Linked DNA regions of Homo sapiens: region 2 is linked to region 1. Evidence: fine-mapped expression QTL. A gene starts in region 1. The other region holds a variant in brackets. All regions are shown on one strand. Distances are from middle to middle.

What was found.
Region 2: its variant is fine-mapped to the expression of PYROXD1 in whole blood (INTERVAL, PIP 0.98).

The regions. Positions count from the first base shown.
Region 1 is chr12:21,433,557-21,442,092 of GRCh38, forward strand. It overlaps PYROXD1 (pyridine nucleotide-disulphide oxidoreductase domain 1), which reads left to right and starts at 4,099. Exons shown (of 12, transcript NM_024854.5): 1 at 4,099-4,258; 2 at 6,812-6,892. The coding sequence starts at 4,175. RefSeq lists enhancers at 3,928-4,007, 4,058-4,247.
Region 2 is chr12:21,456,692-21,464,691 of GRCh38, forward strand. It overlaps PYROXD1 (pyridine nucleotide-disulphide oxidoreductase domain 1), which reads left to right. Exons shown (of 12, transcript NM_024854.5): 8 at 4,334-4,463; 9 at 5,317-5,429; 10 at 6,049-6,171. Among named protein-coding and RNA genes, the nearest start is that of PYROXD1, 23 kb to the left of the region's middle. The variant G/A (reference allele first, on the strand shown) is at 3,645.

The DNA of each region.
Region 1 (8,536 bases):
ATTTGATTATGTTTATACAATTTAGTGTTTAACAATAGCTGTGTTAACAATCAGCTCACACAAATCCTAAAATTTTAACAATCAGCTCTCACAGATTCACAGTTGTACCACACCACTGATTCATAGATATAGGAAGACAGCCTGCGGTATGGCAAGAATGACACCACGGCCATGATGACTGATGTTGGATTCCTGCATACTAAGGTGTTCTGCAGCAAGGTCCTTAAACAATGCCCATAGCATAGATAACCCTTCAAAAGAAACAAAGCTTGTAACTTAGATAATTCTCTCATTAAGATTCTTATCTAGACTCCCCAGTGTTCATGAGTTTTGCAAGAAAGTCTGAGACATGATCAGCTGTACATCTTTTATCCTAAAAGCTTACATAATTTCTGGAGGGCAGGTGTGGGGATGCACTGTAACAGAATCATCATTTCTGTGTGTAAGTCCCTATTAAATACCTCTTTCTGAGAAACTGGATTTGTCAGTTTTTCTTTGGCCTCTCAGCTCTCTCAGCCTTTGGGGGTAGGTTTGCATATATATGCTCATACAGGAACAACAGTGAGGCTCTTTCCTCTCCTTACTCCTTACCCACCCTCCAATCTTAAAGCCCCTGAAAACATCAGCTCTTAGTTAGGAGAAGAGCTGGAGCAAAAAAGCAACAAGAAATCAATTTGCGTTGCCTGTAGTTAGGTGAGGCTTTAATTGGATGCGTGTCTGGAGTTTTGATAATAGGTAGTACCAGACTTTTTATTACCTGAGAATGATCAGATAAGCTAAATTAATAAGAATTTAGAGGAGAAAAATACATTCACAGGAAAAGCGTTGAGAAATAAAAATGTTTGCTTTAATTTCTTCCCTATAAAGTCCAGCTTGTTCAGTAAATCAGTTATATGAACTAACAAAACAAAGAAGAGGTTTCGAGTGCAAGATGAATCCAGGCTGTACTTACAGCGAATTGGCAAAAACCAAGATAAAAATGAGAAGATATCCAAGATGTTTCAGAAATTTCAGGCTTGAAGATTCAGAGTAGATTGCATGAGAGATAGACATTTGGGAGTTAAAAGCATAATAGGCTTGTTAAGGTTATGATCATAGATAAAATCCTTTAGACAGAGAAACATAGTCTATTCAACAGGGCACAGGCAGGCAACTTAACCATTAATCCTACTAAGAGGCACGCACTATGCTAGGAAGTTTAAATATGTTGCCTCACACATGCATCAAAACAACTCTACAAAGTAGATCTTATACCCGTCTTGCCAATGAGGAAACTAGGGTTCAGATGAGGTAAATAACTCACTGAATGGTCACACAACAAAGAAATGCTGGTGCCACATTTGAACCTAGGTCATCTGACTCAAAAGCTATTAATCACCAACTATGAAATGTCATTATTCATTCCCAATTTTTGCAGTTGAAAATTAACCTCAATACTCCTATTCTAGGCATTTCTGATATCAACTTGAAGAAGAATGGAAGACTAGATTTTGATGGTAGTTTGAAAGTTGGGGATGGCCTTCAAGAGATTAGGTGGGTATGGGAATCAGATGTAACAACATTATGGAGAGAAATAGAAGAAGATAGCTTTATCTCCTTCAGTTTTTCCACATGAATCTTGAACTCCCCAACCACTTTTCTTTCTTTCTTCCCTTTTACCATCTCCTGTATTTCCCATGCTCATTCCTGCTGCTAAGCCTTTGGTTCTTGGGATATTTCCCACATGACTTGCCACATCTTCTTCTGAACCTATCCAAATGCTATGGGCCTTTGAGATTCAATATAAATTCCACTTCTTCTCTGAACCTTTCTTTGCCAAGTCCTGCTTTTCTTTTCCACCCATAAACATACACCATAATATTTAGCAATACACTGGTATTTCTTTGACTCCTCAGAAACAGTCACCAGGTCACTCCTAAGCTTGCTGACCAGAGCTAAAGGGGAGCTGAAGTTCTGTCTTTTCTGCTTCTCTGCTGCTTCCTGGCATTGGGCCTCCCTTATTTCTAGGTGCCCAGTTTTCTTTGCAGTTGCCCTTTCTCCTAACCTGTACCTATTGCTGCCCTCCCTGTGGATAACATGTTTCAAGTTACCTACATCTTACTTTTAACCCACTTTACATCCAGTATATGTATCTAATTTAATCAACATTAAGGTGAGATGCACTGAAAGTTCTTTAACCCTTAGACATTTCTAAAAGTTGGATATTCATGCCAGTGTGGCAGGCAGCTAGGTCTTATCCCTACATCACCTTTGACAAAAAAGCCAGCCTTCACAAGGGGAAGAAAAAAGGAGAGTGTGGAGTCATTACCCCTTTACATTTGAGGAGCCTCCTACTACTTTGCTTCCCCTCCCACAGACGATGATCTCCTTCCGTTTCCCCTGGGAGCTTAAATTCCACTCCATTCTTCCTTCCGACTTCCATAAAGAGGAAACCCCTGTCACAATATACAAGAGGATCCTGACCCTGGACAATGAATCTAAAAATCTTTAGAAGGACTTCAGGGGAGTTTCATGCTCCACCAACTTCCTATTTCGTTGAGCACATTTTTGTTGAATACATACTCCCTACTAAACATTGGAGATACAAAGGGAGACAAAAATAATCCCTGAGATTATGTAAGCAGTTTATGGTGGTGGTGGGGTCAGGCAGTAAGAATTTACAATAAAGTGGGATAAGTCTAAATTTAGAGGATGACAAAGTGCTATAAGAACACACGGAGAGGACACCTAGCTGTCTTGAGGATGTTAGATAAAGTATCTTAAAGGGGAAGCAATGGCTTGATGAAACCAAAGGTTGATGAGTTAGCCAGGGAAAAGTAGTTGGGAAAAAGATATGTGCAAATGCTCAGAAAGAAAATGGCATATCCTGGGATCTGGAAGTGTAGTGTGGCCTGAATGGAACACAGTGTGAGTGAGATAATGTGAAAATAAGCTGAAGCAAGATGAGATCTAAATGGGCTTAAGGAATGTATTTCCTCCTCCTAGAAATGAATGCTTTGTTTGGTTGCTATACTAGTAACAGGAATTAGACACGTTTATTAAACCGCTTACCATTTAACTTGGTAAATCAAAGAACAATGATTTTTACAGGTATCAGTAAATGCCTGTAATTAGATACGTGGTAGGCTTTCCTGTTAATATATAATGGTTATTCTCAGTGTTTAAAGAATTAAAGGGACTCGGGTAATTACCAGTTTTAGAGTGAACCATTTGAGAGATAATACCTTACCATTACAAAACAACTCCTAGGGAAAGTTATATGAGACAGCAAAGGTAATAGTAAATAGTAAAATAATATGAATAGTGAATAATATAGTAAAAACAGTTAAAAATGATTTAGCAATTTCTTAAAAACAATTGACCACGAAAAAAATTCACAGTAAAACCGAGACTGGGAATATTTCATTCAACCCTCACACATGCTGCTATTGACTGGAAATTTAAGAAATGTTCATTTGTTTTGACAAAATGGAAAGCAACTGTACATTCTTCCTGGAAACTTTAGCTGAGGTCAAAGTTGTAAATGAAAAGGATGATTTTTTAGAGAACAATTCAGTAGTATTGTTTTGCCTTGTCATGAAGAATTTTTGTGCTTCCACAAACAAAAATCTTGGATTGTTAGGTGAACGGTGGCAATCAAGTGGTTTTCAGAAGACTCAAGTTTCTTCATCTACAAAAATGACAGGAGTGGGGTCAGGATGTTCCCGAAGGCTCCTTCTACTCATAAGAGCATAAAATCTGTGCCTCTAATTTCTCGCAGAAACAAATAATGAGAACTTCACACCAATTCATTTATTATATGAATGTTTTGTCCCGTGAGAACACTGGTCTATCTTTAGATATGTAATTTATCAAACTTCTTTGGGCAACCCATCTTCTTTACTTTTTTATTTTTAATTTTTTGGTTTTCTCTTTGTCAAATTTTCATGGAATAACTACATTCAGGTGTAGTAATAGTAACGCAAAGCTCTGAACACCACGAGACAATTCGTTGCTTCCGAAACGCAGCCGGCAGCAGGTACTCGAGATGAGTAGTGTGAGCTCCCGAGCACCCGTAGGTCGGATTATCTGGTAAGGCACCGGAAGTGACCGCCTCGCGGCTGCTTCCTCTCCTGGAGTCCAGAGTCCCGTTGCTCCGCCGCGATATTCAGTAAACCACTGGGAGTCCGGCAGCATGGAGGCAGCGCGCCCTCCCCCGACGGCAGGGAAGTTCGTGGTGGTCGGCGGCGGCATCGCGGGCGTCACTTGTGCGGAGCAGGTAGGGCGGTGCTCAGGCGGTTCCGCCTCTTTCCCCGACCCCAAAGGGGATAGCACTGGAGGCCTTCCTCCCACCCCCTCCCTTTTTCTTCTTCCGGGTTCCTTTTTTGCTGCGCCCTTTTCCGCACTTATTGCTCCCAGATTTTAGAAACTGCTTGGTGGTCCTCAGATGACCTCACTAGCTTTCTCTTAGGCGCAGGGAGGAGTGGGAGGCAAATTATAGCCGAGAAACCAAAGCTGGCTGATCCGTGCTCAGATCCTTGTAATGTCAGAGCAGACATGAGGACTTTGTATTTAGACAAAAAATTCAGCCCCCTTTCTTTTTATTTTTTTTTCTTTTTCTTTGAGACGGAGTCTCACTCTGTCGCCCAGACTGGAGGGCAGTGGTGCGATCTTGGCTTAATGCAAGCTTTGCCTCCCGGGTTCAAGCGATTCTTCTGTTGCGTCAGCCTGTAGCTGGGATTACAGGCGCCAGCCACCACGCCCCGCTAATGTTTGTATTTTTAGTAGAGACGGGCTTTCACCATGTTGGCCAGGCTGGTCTCGAACTCCTGGGCTCAAGCAGTCTGCCCGCTTCCGCCTACCGAAGTGCTGGCATTACAGGCCTGAGCCACAGCACCCGGCCCTCAGCCCCCTTTGTTAATTATCGTAGGTGATTGAGTTTAGTTTCCAGATAGTTGCCAAGTCTTTAGTGCATCTTAACTAATTAATAAAGAATCCCATATGTAAGTTTTCTATACTTCGAACTCCCAAGATAGAAGAAACTTTATTTCTAGTAAAGTTTTGTAAAATAATCAGCGAAGGATTAAATGCATGTAGGGCTTGCTTTCTTGATTATACTGAATAGCCAGACCATATATATTCAGATACATGTGTGTATTCCAAAAAGTTCTACATTATTTTGTTGATATAAAGTAAACATGAGCAATCACTGAAGTCATAAGAAATAGTGGAAGAAACTCAAGTGTTTCCATCGTTGGATGCGTATTTTCCGTTTATTCACTAAGTAAACATATATGATGCAGGCACCGTATTAAGGGCTGAGTGTTCAACTATGAACAGCATGGTATATACCATGCTGGGGACTCACAGCCTGCTGGAAGAGACAATATTACAATATTGTATGTCTATGCAAGAGATATCAACGGTTATCTTAGAGGTGCCTGTGGAGTATGTAGGGAGTGAATTAGGGAAGAGGAAATTTTTTTAATCAAAGAAGGTATTTTTAAAATCTCATTATGAAAGAATGAGTGAAAGTTTACCAAGTATTCAAGAAAAGAATGTCATCTCCAGTGGAAAAGCATGGATCATCAGGGAGCAGTAAAGCTTAAAGCATAGATCATAAGGAGTCTTAGCATGCTGAGAACTTAACAAGAATTTACAAGTAGTCAAATGTTTTTGAGCAGTGGAGTAACTTGATCATATGAAAAGGCTTGAAAGATGATTAGTTACAATGTATTTGTGGCAGAGGCAGCTGGTTTATACGTGAAACTGGAGAGCCAATTCGAAGGTGATTTCAGTAGTATAAAGAAGTTTTGAGGACCTCATCTAGCAATGGAAACAGCAGAGATATAAATTACAGAATATACAGAGGAAAGAAAGATGGAGAGAGTAATGATATTGTCAAATATAGAAAGTTCAAATAAAATGAGACTGAGAAGAATCGCATGGGTGTTGGGCACGATAGCTCACACTTGTAATCTTAGAACTTTGGGAGGCCAAGGTGGGAGGATTGCATGAGTCCAGGAGTTTGAAGCCAGACTGGGCAACATGGCAAGATCCCATCTCCATTAAAAAAAAAATAAATAATCCCTTGGATTTTAAGGATTCATAGATCCCTCAAACATGCTGTTTTAGTGATGGAGTAGGAATAGAAGCCAGATTATTGAGGGTGGTGGTGTCGAGGAACCAGACTTTGAGATAAGAAAATGCTTTCAGGTACAGAGTGAAGAAGACCGAGGTTGTAGCTAAAGGAAAATAATGAAACATTAACAAGTTATACCTCTAAATTTTGTGGAAGCAATTATTAAAATGGCTTTATCGTCCCACAATATGTACTGACTGGAAGAGGCAGAATAGGAGTGCCAGAGCACCTGGGGAAAGTTAGACCAATATTCTAAGTGTTTAATATTGAGGGTTTGCTTTAATTTCATCCCATTGAAGACAAATGAAATATTATTTTAAGATAAATAGAAGTTGGTTTAACTGGTAATTAGGAAGATAGTTTATTCTCATCCTCTGCATTATAACTCTAAATTGGTATAAAAAATAGTTGAAGTAAATAAAGGATATTTCTTTATATCACTTTTCTTGTTCAGGAGTTCTTTGTTAGTGTTTACTGTAAATATTATTTTCTCAGTATCAGAGTTTAATATTATTCACCATTGCCCCATCAAGACCAAGGATAATGGAGACCTTTAGATGAGGAACAGTGGGTTTTTAATTTTCTAGATTAATTACATTATTAAAATTGCATTATTCTCAACCCCAAACCATATATACCAGTACTTAAAGTAATTTGTCCTAATTTTTTTTCTCTCTTTTTAAAAATAAGTTGGCTACTCACTTTCCATCGGAAGATATTCTCTTGGTAACAGCTTCTCCTGTTATTAAAGCAGTTACAAATTTCAAGCAGGTAAGAACCTTTGTATAACTTGTTAATATTAATTTGAAAAAATTGCAATAACTTGCATAGCAGTTAGGGTAATTGTGTATTTTTTTCTTTCTTAAAAATTGACAAGTACAGTTATATGCTGTACAACATGATGTTTTGATACATGTATACATTGTGGAATGGCTAAGTCAAGCTATTTAAAATCTTTCCAATTTGGATGCCTTTTATTTCTTTCTGTCACCTAATTTAATTGCTCTAGCTAGGACTTTAGTACTGTGTTGAATAGAAGTTGTGAGAGTGGGCATCCTTGTGTTGTTCTTGATCTTGGAAAAGCTTTCAGCTTTTCTCCATTCAATATATTATTAGCTATAGGCTTGTATATGACCATTTTTTTGTTGTGGTACTTTCCTTCCATACCTAATTGTTGGGTTTTTATTATGAAAAGACGTTTAATTTTGTTGAATATTTTTTCTATATCTGTAGAGATGGTCATGATTTTTGTCCTTTGTTCTGTTAATGTGGTATATCACATTTACCGATTTGCATATTTTAAGCCATCTTTGCATCCCTGAATAAATCCCACTTGATTATGGTGAATTGATTGCTTTTTTTTGAGATGGAGTCTCACCCTGTTGCCCAGACTGGAGTGCAGTGGCACGATCTTGGCTCACTGCAAGCTCCGCCTCCTGGGTTCACGCCATTCTCCTGCCTCAGCCTCCCAAGTAGCTAGGACTACAGGCGCCCGCAACCATGCCCAGCTAATTTTTTGTATTTTTTAGTAGAGACGGGGTTTCACCATATTGGCCAGGCTGGTCTGGAACTCCTGACCTCGTGATCCATCCACCTCGGCCTCCCAAATTGCTGGGATTACAGGTGTGAGCCACCGCGCCCAGCCTGGAAAGTTTTCTGTTGTTATTTCTTTAAATACATGTTCTACTCCTTTGTCTTTCTTGTCTCCTTCTATAACGCCTATAATTCAAAGATTTGCTCATTTGATGCCATCCTTTAATTCCCTACTTCTATGTTCTTTTTCATTCTTTTTTCTTCTTCTTCCCTTCTGACTGTATATTTTCAAATAATCTGTCTTCAGATTCACAGATGTTTTCTTCTGTGTGATCAGTTCTCTTGTTGACATAGTCTGTTGCATTTTTTTTTGTTTCATTCATTGCATCTTTCATCGTCAGAATTTCTGCTTTAGTTTTTAAATAACTTTTTAAATTTTTTGTTTTGGTTGCTTATTGTTTTTCTGATTTAATTGAATTGTTTGTAACTTCTTGAAGTTCCTTCAGCTTCTTTAAACAATTATTTTGAATTCTTAGGCAGTTCTGACATTTGTGTTCTTTTGGTGGCATATCTTCTTGGTTTATCATGTTTCTTACTGCCTTATGTTGATGTTTGCACATTTGATGACACACTTGCTGTTTTCAGAAGTATGGGCTAGTTTTGCTGTGGAAAGACCTTCCCCTATGGGGAGGGCTGCTTGCTAGATGGGATGTAGCAGTTCTGGCACCAGTGAGGGTGCCCACTTTGTAGTCTGTGCAGCTCCGTCAGCTGAGTTAATTGTTGTTGAAGATTGCAGGGATCCTCAGCATCCAACTCTGGATGTCTGCAGTGGTAGTGAGGGTTGTTGGGGTTTTCAATGTCAATGGCTGCTAATAGCCTCCC
Region 2 (8,000 bases), 23 kb after region 1:
ACAAGTTTGCCCCATCAATTGACTCTTCCTCTCGTGAAAGACTTCTCTGTAGCGTGCGAAGCTGTTTTATAGCATTTTGCCCAGAGTAGAAGTTCTTTCAAAAGTCAATTCTCTCAAACTCTGCTACTGCTTTACCAAGTATATGTAATATTTTAAATCCTTCATCATTTCAGCAATACTCACAGCATCCTCACCAGAAGTAAACTCCATCTCAGATAACTACGTTCTTTGCTCATCCATGAGAAACAACAACTCATCTTTTCAAATTTTATCATGAGATTGCAGCAATGTAGTCTCATCTTCAGGATTCATTTCTAATTACAGTTCTTTTGTTATTTCCACCATATCTGCCTTTCTCCATTGAAATCTTGAATCCCTCAAAGTCATCCATGAAGGTTGGAGTAAACTTCTTTCAAGCTTTTGTTAATGTTGATATTTTGACTTACTCCCTTGAATCATGAATGTTCTTAATAACATCTAGAATGGTGAATTCTTTCCAGAAGGTTTTCAATGTACTTTTCCCAGATCCATCAGATGCATCACTATCTGTGGCAGCTATAGCCTTATGAAATGCATTTCTTTAATAAGACTTGAAAGTAAGAATTACTCCTGGATCCATGGGCTGCAGAATGGATATTGTATTAGCAGGCATGAAAACAACATTCATCTCCTTGTGCATCTCTGTCTGAGTTCTTGGGTGACCAAATGCCTTGTCAATGAGTGTAGTATTTTGAAATGAATCTTTTTTTTTTTTTTTCTGAGCAGTAGGTCTCAATGGTGGGCTTCAAATATTCAGTAAACTATGTAAACAGATGTGCTGTGTATTACTCCATTCTCACAGTATATAAAGAAATACCTGAGAGTAGGTAATATTTATAAAGAAAAGAGGTTTAATTGGCTCATGGTCCCACGGGCTGTACAGGAAGCATGACTGGGGAGGCCTCAGGAAACTTTCAATCACGGGGGAAGGGGAATTATGCACTTCTTACATGGCCAGAGCAAGAGGAAGAGAGAGAAGGGGGCTGGTGCCACACACCTTTAAACAACCAGATCTCATGAGAACTCTAACATGAAAACAGCACTAAGGATGGTGCTAAACTATTAGAAACTGTCCCCATGATCCAGTCACCTCCCACCAGGCCGTACCTCCAACATTGGGGATTACAATTTGATATGAGATTTGGGTGGAGAACCAGGCCCAAACCATATAATGCTGTCATCCAGGCTTTGTTGTTCCATTTACAGAGGACAGGCAGGGTAGATGTAGTATAGTTCTTAAGGGCCCTAGAACTTTCACAGTGGTAAATAGGCATTGGCTTCAACTTCAAGTCACCAGTTACATTATCCCCTAACAGGAGAGTCTGCCTGTCCTTTGAAGCCAGGCATTGACTTCTCCTCTATAGTTGTGAAGGTCCTAGATAGCATCTTTTTCCACTGGAAGGCTGTTTCATGTACACTGAAAATCTACTGTTTAGTGTAGCCACATTCATCAGTTATCAATTGTATATTTTTGTTGTAGAGATGGCTTCTTTACTTAAACATCATGAACCAACCTCTACTAGCTTCAGCCTTTTCTTCTGCAGCTTCCTCACTTCTCTCAGCCTTTACAGAATTGAAAACAGTTAGGGGCTTACTCTGGGTTAGGCTTTGGCCTAAGGGAATGTTGTGGCTGATTTGATCTTCTCTCCACACCACTAAAACTTTCTCCATGTCAGCAAGAAGACTGTTTCGCTTTCTCATCATTCATGTGTTCATTGGAATACCACTTTAGATTTACTTCAAGAATGTTTCCTTTGCATTCACAATTTGGCCATCTGTTCAGGGCAAGAGGCCTGGCTTTCCATGTGCCTTCCTCAATAACCCTAATAATCATTGCTACCTTTTGATTTAAAGTGAGAGATGTGTGATCCTTACTTTCACTTGAACACTTAGAGGCCACTACAGAGTAACTGATTGCCCTGGTTTCAATATTCTTGTGTCTCCGGGAATAAGGAGGCCCAAGGAGAGGGAGAGACATAGGACAACAGCTGGTTGATGGAGCAGTCAGAACACAGAACATTTATCGATTAAGTTCACTGTGTTAGATGGGTGTGGTTCATGACACCCCAAGACAATTACAGTAGTACATCAAAGATTACTAATCACAGATCACCATAAAAGATCTAATAATGATGAAAACTGAAATATTGCAAGAATTACCAAAATGTGACAGAGACACAAAGTGAGCACATGCTATTGGAAAAATGGCACTGATAAGACTTGCTTGATGTGGGTTTGTCACAAACCTTCAATTTGTAAAAAACACACTATCTGCAAAACAGTAGTGAAGCACAATAAAATGTTGTGTCTGCAGTTTTCTGGCACACAACTCCTAAAATTTTTGGCATCTCCAAAGTGATGTGTCCTTTTGTATGCTAACGAGTTGACTGGTTAGCCCCTAGGTGGCTTCAGAATGGGGACTGGTCACAGGAAAGACCAAGACATGATTAGAGTTTAGACTTTCCAACCTACAGGAAGGGAAAGAGGTTGAAGGTTAAGCCAATCACTAGCAGCCAGTAATTTAATCAGTCACCTACATAACACAGTTTCCATGAAAACCCAAAAGGACTGGGTTTGGAGAGCTTCTGGATAGCTGAACATGTGGAAGTTGCTAGAGGGTGGTCTATCTGGAGAGGGCATAGAAGCTTCATGCCCCTTCTTATATGCTTTGCCTTATGTATTTCTTCATCTGTTTCTTCGTGACATCCTTGATAATAAACCAGTAAATGTAAGTAAAGTGTTTCCCCAAATTCTGTGAGATATTCTAATAAATTAATTGAACCTAAGAAAGGGGCTCGTGGGAGCCCCTTGATTTATGGTTGGTTAGTCAGACCAACTGGTAAAACACCCGGGGCATGCAATTGGTATTGGAAGTGGAAGACAGTCTTGTGAGATTGATCCCTCAACATGTGGGACCTGATGCTATCTCCAGGTAGATAATAACATCAGAACTGAATTGAATTAGAGGACAGCCAGATGGTGTCCTGTGCAGAATTAATTGCTTGCTTAGTGTGTAGAAAACACCCCACACACATTTGGTCACAGAAGTATTCTGTGTTGTGAGACTATAGTAGGAGAAACTGAGTTTGTTTTTTCCTATATCCTCAGATCAGGGATAGAGCTTTCTATACCCAGACTACAGTGAATACTCCTGTCCTATTTTAAATTAATCTTTTCTCAAAGGTCACTTCAGATGCATGCAGTAAACTTACAAAAGTTATTAGATGGATTGGAAATACACACTTAATACCCTAATTGGATAAGGAGATGATTTGCTTTTCCTCATTTTGTTAGATATTTTGATTTTTTAATAGTTGTTAAAGGGCTGTGAAATCTAAATGCTGTAAGAAGCATGCATGCAGTCCTTCGTTACTTTGTGTGATTTCTTTAGAGCATTGGTTTTTGGCTTTCAGTAGGTAGGAGGGGAGCTGGCTGCACGGTGTATCTAATTTTTGTGATGGAAATTACACAAAGTCCCTTCTTCTTGCACCTTCAGATCCTAATATTATATTTTTAACCTGAGAACTTCAACAGTTTAATTCAATAAGCATTTATTGAGTATTTACTACCTACGTGGGACTTTATTAATGTTCAGGGATACGACA[G/A]TAAGTCAGAACTGACCTGAAGAAAATTTTATAGTCCATAACTGTTGTCATTTTTTAAATTTTTATTTATTTATTTATTTATTTATTTTATTTATTTATTTTTTTTGAGACAGAGTCTCGCTCTGTCACCCAAGCTGGAGTGCTGTGGTATGATCTTGGCTCGCTGCAACCTCTGCCTCCCGGGTTCAAGCGAGTCTCCTGCCTCAGCCTCCCGAGTAGCTGGGACTACAGGCGCACACCACCAGGCCTGGCTAATTTTTTAATTTTAGTAGAGACAGGGTTTCACCATATAGGCCAGGCTAGTCTTGAACTCCTGACCTCAGGTGATCCACCTGCGCCTCGGCCTCCCAGAGTGCTGGGATTACAGGCGTGAGCCACTGTGCCCAACAACTACTGTAATTTTTAAAAAATGCATTTGTAATTATCAATGAGGCCTAGGCTAAAAAGCATTCCCTCGATGCTATCTGCTAATGCAGCTACCAGATCTCTTAAGTTACTGAATGAATTTTTGTTCACTCCTTTCATGTGCATAGAGAGACTTATTTTAGGGCACCCAATGTGGTTTCATTTATATTATAAGAATTATGTTTTCTATACATTTCTACAAGTATACGTTTTTTCTTCATCATTAGTAACCCGGGTTATTCTTTCTGTAAGTATTATGCTAACCAGTATTTTCTTAATTTTAGTTTTCTCATAAGATTCACCTTGAAACTATGTGTGAAGTAAAGAAAATCTACCTTCAGGATGAGTTTAGAATTTTGAAGAAAAAGTCCTTCACTTTTCCAAGAGACCATAAGTCAGTTACAGCTGATACAGGCAAGTAATGAAATAAGAAAAAATATATATAACCACTTAATTAAAAGGAAAACAATTTAATCCTGCTGTGTTCTATTAAAAATAACTTCGTATTTCCATATAAAATTTAAACATGAAAAGTAAAAATAAAACCATAATTTAATAACATTAACTCACTTCATTTCACTGTCTGTTGTTTTCTAGTAAATTAAATCGTATAGGGCATTACATCTTACATAGAGCTGAGTGTTTTGACCAACAATCAGAATATATTATAAATCAAAATAAGACAAAAACCTAGAGCTCTTAAAGGTGACATGATTTCACCCAAATCAGATTGAAAATGTATATTTTTGGGACTAAGATGCAGCTCTCCTAACTCCAGTTCCACAACTCCTCTGAGAATTGCCATGATTTGAAGAAATACACTCAGTTAACTAGCATATGAAATATTCTACTGTTCTGAATTCTTTGAATTTTTCCATAGGAAAGGGGAATTTGAATATGAGTAGTGAGGGAAGACACCTAGTTGAACTAAACACTTAAGTGGAGTGTAAAGTATTACAAAAGATTTTTAGAGAAATAATTTAGAAATAATTTAAATGTACTTTGTCAAAATTTATGTGTCCAAATTTGAAGGAAAAACATTTAAAATGCCATGGTTTTAAAATTATACCCAAACGAGATGATGCTAATTGCATTAAAATTGCTTTAGCAAATATGCCTCATAATAATTGCTAAGGAGTGTGTTACAAAGTTATCTCTTGCCTTTCTTTTTCTTTCTTTGTTTCTAGTCATTGTAGTCACATACACTGCTGTGGTGATGGTTCCATTTACAAATAAAGTCTGTTTTTTTGGTTTTTTTTTCTTAAAGAGATGTGGCCTGTCTATGTGGAATTGACCAATGAAAAGATATATGGCTGCGATTTCATTGTCAGTGCTACAGGAGTTACACCAAATGTAGAACCTTTTCTCCATGGTAACAGTGTAAGGTGAAATTTTTTTGTCCAGCTGTGAATATATTTGAAGTATTTTTGTGAAGATCTCTAATTCTCAAACATGAATAATTATTATTTTAGTGTACAACTGTAACTTAACATGGTTGGAAACAGTTTGGTTAAAACATTGTCTTGATTTACAGTATTTTTTACTGCTTAAAATCCTTACATAGTTATATCCTTGCATAAGCGTCATCAGTAATGGTTTATAATGTACAATTTATTTATCTAAATGTTGGTAAGAGACTGACACCTCCCGTGACTTCTCAAAAATGATTCTTTTAGAGAAACCATCTTGTATTTTTTGCTTTTCAGCACTTGAAGCTTACAAAAAAAAAAAAAGAATATTCTTGTAGTTATGGATAAGGTAGTCACATGGTTATTGGATACTTTTCATGTTGAAATTCTGACAGTTTTATGGATCAGTCTTAGTTGGAATTTGATCCATGGAAATTCAGCTCAGGTGTCTAAACTTTGCTGATATTTTTCATTTTCTCATTAAAGATGAGCATGCAAAGTGTAACAATTTAATTTGTTCTTTTACTTTAAAATGGAAAAAGTCGTTTCATTTTTCTTAACACTTAACGCTTATGAGGAATGTTGTTTAGTTTGATCTAGGAGAAGATGGTGGCCTGAAAGTGGATGATCATATGCACACATCCCTTCCTGATATCTATGCTGCCGGTGACATCTGTACTACATCCTGGCAGCTGAGCCCAGTCTGGCAGCAGGTAAGCTAGCATATATAATTATATGTTTTCATCAGAGATTCTGTCTGAAAATAAAGCGGTTGTTACCAACAAATCCAACTTCTGGTTTTCCAACTTTTCTGCTTAAGTAGGAAGCTAGCACAGTTGTTATATATATTTAAAAAAAAAACTAGAATATTTCCCTGTTTGGTAAGTTATCATTATAATGGTAGACTGAGACATCTTTTACTTTAAAAGAAATTATGGGCTATTACTTTGTTTTTCATTCTTACCTGCTTATCAGCACTGTCCAGGAGAACTTTCTGTGATGATGGAAATGTTTAATTCCTCACCATCTAGTCAGGTAGCCAGCAGTATGTCACATGAGCACTTGAAATGTGGTTAATGTGACTGAGGAACTGAATTATTTTTACTTACTTCTCATTAACTTTAAATATATGTGGCTACGATGTTGGACAGCACAACTTTAGATTAAAAAAACTACTAAGATTGTAAATTATATAGAAAAGCATTCTATTCCTTTATGATCCTATTCTGTCCCTGTGGTAATCATTACTAAAAAATGTTCTGGGCGCAGTGGCTCACGCCTGTAATCCCAGCACTTTGGGAGGGTGAGAGGCAGGTGTATCATCTGAAGTTAGGAGTTTGAGACCAGCCTGAACAACATGATGAAACCCCGTCTTTACTAAAAATACAAAAAATTAGCTGAGCATGATGGTGTGCGTCTGTAATCCCAGCTATTCAGGAGGCTGAGGCACAAGAATCCCTTGAACCTGGGAGGCGGAGGTTGCAGTGAGCTGAGATCGCACCACTGCACCCCAGCCTGGGCAACAAGAGCAAAACTCTGTCTCAAAAAAAAAAAAAAAAATTCCTGTAGTAAACACCTTTCCTGAGCCTTAACAAGTCCCAACTGGATCTAGACTTTTTCCTACCCTCACAGCTTTACCTACCTCCTCCTAACGGTGGAACAAAAATACTAGAGGAAGATAAAGACAGTGACCAGAGGTGTGCAGAGGGGTAGAGACCTAGGTAGATGTTTGAAATAAAGGAACCAGGCAACATTTATCTTTGTTAAAGACCAGCTCCACAGTTAGGGACATTATTCATTCAGATTATGCAGTGTGAAGTAGGAGAAGAGCTAAAAGTATTTCAAGAGGCAGCACCATCATTTTGTGTTCTTACAGACAGTAGAGACATCAGTAAGAATGGTTCCAGCCTTTTTGTTTCTAACCTGCCTCATTCTATGTCATTTCTGTGGCAAGACTATCACAAATTCTTAGAGTTGGAGTTTATGGGTTTTTTTTTTTTTAACATTTTTAATTCTCTAGGGTAAATTATATCTTAATGTGTTATAATCTGAAAGAGGGGAAAAAATCCGAAAATAAACAGATGGCCTTGTTTTGAGTGCACCTTATAGGCCCCATTTCTTGGCTTACACAAGCAATAAGGATACTAATTTATGCAGTTCAAGATGCAAATTTTCCGGCCACTTGTATTAGCTGTTCTCTAGTTGTTACTGTGCTCAGTTTATTCTGACCCCCAGCCATAAACTGCCTTTCACTTCATCAAATCTATAATACCTTGTTTACAGAGGAGATTGAAAAAAAAAAATCTATCACTTCTGCTAGAAATGCTTAAAACTCATGTCTATGATTATGATATTATTTCTGCAAACAAAAGACAGCATTAAGTACATATGCACATACAGGGAGGTAGAAGGAAACCAAGTGCTTATTATACGCTAACCTGTTTAATTCTCTCAATAGTTACAGAGTAGGTAGTGTTATGTTTACGTTTCAGGTAAATGAACCGAGGCCCAGAAAAGTTAAATATATATGTAGATCTGTTGA